Linked DNA regions of Homo sapiens. The protein of the gene in region 1 interacts with the protein of each later gene in a pairwise test. Each region holds a gene or a part of one and is shown in the gene's direction. Other genes may lie near its edges.

Region 1 (3,500 bases):
ATATATGTATGTGTATATGTGTGTGTGTGTGTGTGCGTGCGTATATATATATATATATATATATATATATATATATGGTTTTTTGTTTTGTTGTTTACGGTTTTTTGTTTGTGTTTATTTTTTTGTTCATGTTTATGTTTTTTCTTGTTACGTTTCCCAGGCTGGTCTTGAACTCCTGGCCTCAAGCAAGCAATCCTCCAATCCCAAGTGCTGGGATTATAGATAGGTGTGAGCCCAGATGTAATTTTTTTAAAATCCCTGTCGCTTAAATCAGTCTTAGAATAGAATTAGATTGTTCTGTACCTATAAACTATCAACTGGGATCTGATATTGTAACCTCTCACCAGAATCACTTAATGTGGTATGATCTGATCTATTTTTTTAATCTGATTTTTTTTTTTTTTTTTTTGAGACAGAGTCTTGCTCTGTTGCCCAGGCTGGAGTGCAGCAGCACAATCTCTGCTCATTGCAACCTTCGCCTCCCAGGTTCAAGCCATTCTCCCACCTCAGCCTCCTGAGTAGCTGGGAATACAGGTGCTTGCCAACACATCTGGCTAATTTTTGTATTTTTAGGAGAGATGGGGTTTTGCTATGTTGGCCAGGCTGGTCTGGAACTCCTGACCTCAGATGATCCGCCCGCCTTGGCCTTCCAAAGTGCTGGAATTACAGGTGTGAACCACTGTGCCTGGCTGTGTTCTTACTTTTTAAAATGTTCTTTTCCTCTGATCTGAGTGAGTTTGGAGGCTTGTTACTGCCTGGATTTGTGGCCTCCTGAATGTAGAGGAGTTTGGAGGTATGTGTGTCCCTGTGGTTGCATGGTAGGTGTGGGTATGAGGATGTGATGTGTCTGGGGGATGGTGGTTTATAGGCTTTTTGTTTTTCTCCAGAGGCCCAGTTGGTTGATGACTTCAGTTTCTTAGAGGTGAAATCCCAGTGAAACCGAGTCGAATCCCCAGTAGAGGGGAAGGTCTGAGCGAGGTTCAGTGATTTGTGGGCACTCGAGGAAGGTTGGCCTTTAATTCATGGAAAGGGTTCCTCATGGGCAGTTTGGACCTTGCTGTTAGGGTGGAATGAGAGGTGCTCCAACCTTAACAGAGGCACAGAAACTAGAGAAGGGACCTGGTTCCCACTGCCACAGCCACCCGGCCATGCTAGACACCTGCGTACCCTCTGCCTTTTAGTTAATTGAGTACTCCTTGTTGGTTCTAGTAAATTCTGTGCTTACCTATGCTAAATAATACTTATTTTTAGATAGGACAGTATACCCATAGCATCAAGTGTACACCTGCGGAGTGTCAGCTTACGTGAGTGGGAATTTTCCCCAAATTTCTCAGCCTCTGCAGTGCTACCCTCATCCATGACTTTATCCTCCCTTCCCCAGAGCAGGGCTTCTGGACAAGGGAAGGTAACTTTTCTTCACATACCAAAATAAGCAGATCTTGATAGAGCTTCAAAAGAGAGGGAACCAGTTTCTCTTTTAAAAGGAAAAGTGGGCTGGTCTAAACGGTGTCATACAAGTCAATGGAATTAACAATACACAATACACAGAGCCGGGTGCAGTGGCACGCACCTGTAGTCCCTGCTACTTGGGAGGTTCAGCTGAGCCCGGAAGTTCAAGTGCAGCCTAGGCAACAGAGCAAGACCTGCCTCTGAAAAAAAAAATAAGAAACACTCCAGCAGAATCCACTGAGAACTGTCGCTGCCCTTAGCATCACCAGGATATTCCCCGCAGTTGTGTTTCTCAGTCTTGTATTGGTGATAAATGGTGCCTGAATTAACGCACGTACAGTTGCAGAGGCCTCTTTCCCTGGTGGTGTTTGTATCCTGGCAACGTTGCCGCGTGCTGTGGCTCATCCCAGCCTGAACAGCTGCTGCCGGTGTTAGAACTGAGCAACGGAGACTTCTAACCTTTAGCCTGGATTCCCAGTTCTCGTGTACCAGTGTCACATTTTGTAGCTGTCAGGAGCCCAAAATAGAATGAAGAGATCTGTAGGGGAGGAGCTTTCATCAGCCAAACCATTTCTTTCATAATTAATATTAAATTGATAGTAAAACTAGGTATTTCCAGCTTTTTTCATATCACGAATGTAAGACAGATACCAGTACCTCTTACGCAGAGCTCAGCTCATCCGTTCCTAAACTGGGGTACAGAAGCCCTCCTGGCCCCTGGGATGGTCCATAGATAAGTATCAGAGGAGTCCATGTACCCCAGGAAAACGTATGCACAATTTTACTAATGTATTTGCAGTGTTTTGGGGGCAGGGCCTATGGTTTTTAGCACGTAAGAGTGTGAGAGGATCCCAGGAAGATTAAGAATTGCTATAGTCAAATGCAGAAAGTACAGTTTTACAAAGGGCCATTCTGTGTCACCTAGCAAATGATCTCTTTCATCCTGCCCTCTTGCTACTTCCTAATCACGATTCATTCCATTTTTCCATCTTTTTCATTTGATATCAATCTATTAGTGAATGCTTTGCGAACTATAAAAATGAATCAGAAGTGGATCCTGCTTTTATGGCGTTTACAACCAAGTAAAGGAGATTGAGTCATGGAATGTAGAGTTAAAAGGAATTGCAAAGATCTTCTGGTCCAGCTGTCTATCTAATGCTTAAATCCGTTTTCAAACAGCTCCGTTGAGTTCTGTCCACCTGTGCTTGATGGCTTCCAGTGCTGAGGGTCACCGTCTCCCAGGATGACCTCTGTGGACAGCTCCAGCTATTCAAAAGTTCCTCTTTACACTAAATTGAGTCCACATCTGACTGCCCATGACTTCCACCAGTCAGTCCTAGATTTCCTTCCCCGGCCCCCATGGGGTCACACAGAACAAATTTGTGGCCTCTTTCGTGCCCTAGTGCTTAAACATGTAAAAGGAGACCTCATCTCCTTCCGAAAACTTCTCTGAGCCATCACCCCAAAACCTGCAACTCTTTCTCAGGCGTCAAAGTTCTGAGTCCTTTCACCCTTTAACAGGGATTAAAATGTAAAATTGTTTTATAAAATTTGGAAGCTGAGACAGGAGAATCGCTTGAACCTAGGGAGCAGAGGTTGCAGTGAGCCAGGGTTGCACCACTGCACTCCAGCCTGGGTGACAGAGGAAGACTCCATCTCTCAAAAAAAAAAAAAAATTCTAGCTGTTGTAAAGCCATTCTTATAGGTGTTGCCCATTGTGTTCTTTATGACCCTTGTAGAGAGATTCAGAAGGTCATTCTTGTATCAGATGTCCTGAGATGTTTACTGTTATTTAATAATAATGTTCAGTGGATCTGTTACTATGTAGTTTATGAGTAACAAAGACCCAAAATAACAGTGATTTGAATATGACAGAAGTTTGTCTGTCATGTGAAAGTCTAGAGGTGGGCAGCCCAGAGCTGATTCTGCTCTTTGGTGCTCTTGGTGGATTCAGACTTGAATCTTGTTGCTCTGCCGAGAAAAACCTTCATCTCCAAAGCCACGTCGTGGCCCAGGATGGCTGCTCCAATGCCAGCCATCACACCGCCTTC
Region 2 (3,500 bases), on another chromosome or scaffold:
ACTTTGGGAGGCCGAGGTGGGCAGATCACGAGGTCAGAAGTTTGAGACCAGCCTGAGACACATGGTGAAACCCAGTCTCTACTAAAAATACAAAAATTAGCTGGGCATGGTGGCGGGCGCCTGTAATCCCAACTACTCAGTAGGCTGAGGCAGGAGAATCGCTTAAACCCGGGAGGCAGAGGTTGCAGTGAGCCGAGATCATGTCATTGCACCTAGCCTGGGCAACAGAGCGAGACTCCATCTCAAAAAAAACAAAAACAAAAACAAAAAACAAAAAACAAGTGAGCTAACTAAGGGTAGGGAAATCATTGGCTAAATAACAGTACAAGTTATGTCAGAAGTTGTGAGGATGGCTCTTGAATGGCTGGCATTTAGAAAATCCCAGCCTAGATGAATACAAAAAAATACCAGGCTTTATAAAAAGCAAGTGTGTGCCTGACTGCTAGGCTTTTAATAACCTTTCCAGGGTTTCATACTCAAATTGCCAATATTCCTTATACACAAGAGATCAAAAAGTGAGGAAGCAGTAGAAGGTGGCTTATTTTTTGGAGTCTTTTTTTTGCAGAATCAAAATTTGAATATCATGGGTTGTTTTATTTTCTTCTTCTTCTTCTTTTTTTTTTTTTTTTTTGAGACAGAGTCTCACTCTTGTTGCCCAGGCTGGACTGCAGTGGTATGATCTCAGCTCACTGCAACCTCTGCCTCCTGGGTTCAAGTGATTCTCCTGCCTCAGCTTCCCAAGTAGCTGGGATTACCGACGTGTGCCACCATGCCCGGCGAATTTTTGTATTTTTAGTAGAGATATGGTTTTGCCATGTTGGCCAAGCTGGTTTTGAACTCCTGACCTCAAGTGATCCGCCCGCCTCGGCCACCCAAAGTGCTAGGATTACAGGTGTGCGCTAACGCACCCGACCTCAGTGTTGAGCCCTTTCTGCTTTTTCCCTCTCCGTTGCTGGGTTCTGTACACAAGGTAGCGGCAGCCCAGCTCCCAGGCCCCACGACTAAACCAGCTCTCCCTGTCACGGTTCCCCATGTTAGCCTTTTCTTCATAATGCAGTGTCCCTCGGCCACTCTGACCCATGTCATTACTGGGTTAACATTTTTCATCTAACTCCTGGGACCTGCTTTGCTTGTTCACTCTTGCTTCCCCATTTCCCGTCACCTCCTGGTTCCCAGATCTCAGTAATGAGTTGTCAAGTGCCAAGCGTCCCCGATTGTCAAATGTCCTCCAAGCCACCATTCTGCTTTCTTCCGGGCTATTCATGACAGCTGTGAATTGTATGGGACTCTTCGTATGCAGAGGCTCCAATGAGGAAGAGGAAACTGCCCTCCCACTGAGCAACCTTCTGTTGCTTGGGTTGACAAGAAAGCTATATTAATATCTCATCGGAACTCCTATGTTTCTTGTAGAGAAAAAATGGTTTCATTCCCAGCTAGCTCAGAAAAAGCCCATTTCATTCCGTGTTATAGATTTAGAATGATTTCCAATGGCTGGGTTTTTCATGCTTTGTTTGCAATGTTGTGAAATACCGCTTGGTTCTTAAACTATTGCCTTCTTGGTTCTTGTGTGGATAGCTACTGTACTTTGTACCAGTTGTCAATACTTCTGATTTCCCACAAGGTTTGTTTTTGTTTTTTTTTTGCTTTCTTAGATTCTGAAATATGTGGAGTGCTTCACTGGACCTAATATTATGGCCATGCACACAATGTTGATAAACAAACCTCCAGATTCTGGTAATTGTAAGGGAGAAGAAAAAAAAATGGTTTCATTAAAATGTGTAAGGTTGGCTGGGTGCAGTAACTCATGCCTGTAATCCCAGCATTTTAGGAGACCAAGGGAGGAAGATCTCTGAGGCCAGGAGTTTGAGAGTGGCCTGGGCAACATAGTGAGGCTCTGTCTCTAAAAATAAAATTTAAAAATATCCAGGCATGGTGGTATGCACTTGTAGTCCCTGCTATTGGAAGGCTGAGGTGGGAGGATCACTTGAGCCCAGGAGTTGAAGGCTGCAGTGAACCTATAATGGCATGCTCTCCAGCCTGCGTGACACAGTGAGACCCTATCTCTACATAATAAATAAAACAAAACAAAACAAAATAATAAAATAGCTGATGTCTAACTGTAATCATGTGTACAACTGTCAAACTTTGGATAAGGAAGTCTTAAAATAACTTACACTATAACAACAGTGAAATGTGGTAATTATTTCAGATATTAACTGTAGGACTGTTGCTGAATTTTCAGATGACTGGCTCCCCAAAAATGCAGTTTAACCGACATAACTGTTCATATATCAAAGGTTCCTGCCATTCGACGTCTCTAAGCTTGATCAGCTCTTTTTAGCTGTGATAGTGTGGATTCTTGCATTCCTGATAGGAAGACATTATTATTACTAACACAATTAAAATTGTTACTATGAGTCACAAACTATAGTGGTCTTTTTTTTTTTTTTTTTTTTTTTTGAGATGGAGTTTTGCTCTTGTTGCCCAGGCTGGAGTGCGATAGCGCGATCTTGGCTCACTGCAACCCCCACCTCCCAGGTTCAAACAATTCCTGATTCTCCTGCCTCAGTCTCCCAAGTAACTGGGATTACAGGCATGTGCCACCAAGCCTGGCTAATTTTTGTACTTTTAGTAGAGACAGGGTTTCGCCATGTTGGTCAGGCTGGTCTCGAACTCCTGACTTCAGATGATCCACCTGCCTTGGCCTCCCAAAGTGCTGGGATTACAGGTGTGAGCCACCGCGCCCAGCCTATAGTTGTCTTTAAAATGTCTTGTGCTTGCTAAAATGTAGAATCTAAGACCTCATTGGCAGACAGACTGATTGAGAAATATAACCCAGGTTTCTGTATTTTAATAACCTTCCTCAAGCTGGGCGTGGATGTGCACCTGTGGTCCCAACTACTCAGGAGGCTGCGGGGGGAGGATCGCTGGAGCCCAGGAGTTCAAGTCCAGAGATTGTAGTGCAGATCACTTGGACTACACTGGGAAATTCCTCTGTGCCTGCAGTAAAAATCAGCCATGAGAGAGTCCCCCTATCCTTTCTGCCTTTTCTTCCTTCTGATCTGCAGGAGGGGTTTATGTGATAGAAGGCAGCTTAGCATTACCAGGTCTCTCCCTCCTTGAGGAGAGCAGGTGTTCGGGAGCCACACTCAGGGAGCAAACCAGGGGAAAATGTCAGTGTGGTCATGGGCACTCCGACTGGACATGGAATGACTATAGTTGTGGGGGGTGAGGACCTCTTAGATAACTTTTTTTATTTTTATTTTTTTTGAAATGGAGTCTTGCTCTGTTGCCCAGGCTGGAGTGCAGTGGCTCAATCTCGGCTTACTGCAACCTCTGCCTCTGGGGTTTGAGTGATTCTCCTGCCTCATCCTCCTGAATAGCTGGGATTACAGGTGCCCACCACCACACCCAGCTAATTTTTTTTTTTTTTTTTTTTTTTTTTTTTTGGTATTTTTAGTAGAGACAGGGTTTCACCATGTTGGTCAGGCTGGTCTCGA

What was found. The genes of interacting proteins can lie anywhere in the genome.
Region 2: the proteins of MLYCD (region 1) and PHYH come close enough for resonance energy transfer, tested with the Homo sapiens proteins (one large-scale study listed by BioGRID).

The regions. Positions count from the first base shown.
Region 1 is NC_000016.10:83,902,115-83,905,614, forward strand, and holds part of MLYCD (malonyl-CoA decarboxylase, mitochondrial), read left to right. Parts: intron 1-3,500. UniProt on the Homo sapiens protein: Catalyzes the conversion of malonyl-CoA to acetyl-CoA.
Region 2 is NC_000010.11:13,290,065-13,293,564, reverse strand, and holds part of PHYH (phytanoyl-CoA dioxygenase, peroxisomal isoform a precursor), read left to right. Parts: intron 1-1,652; coding exon 1,653-1,734; coding exon of another isoform or gene 1,735-1,740; intron 1,741-3,500. UniProt on the Homo sapiens protein: Catalyzes the 2-hydroxylation of not only racemic phytanoyl-CoA and the isomers of 3-methylhexadecanoyl-CoA, but also a variety of other mono-branched 3-methylacyl-CoA esters (with a chain length of at least seven carbon atoms) and straight-chain acyl-CoA esters (with a chain length longer than four carbon atoms).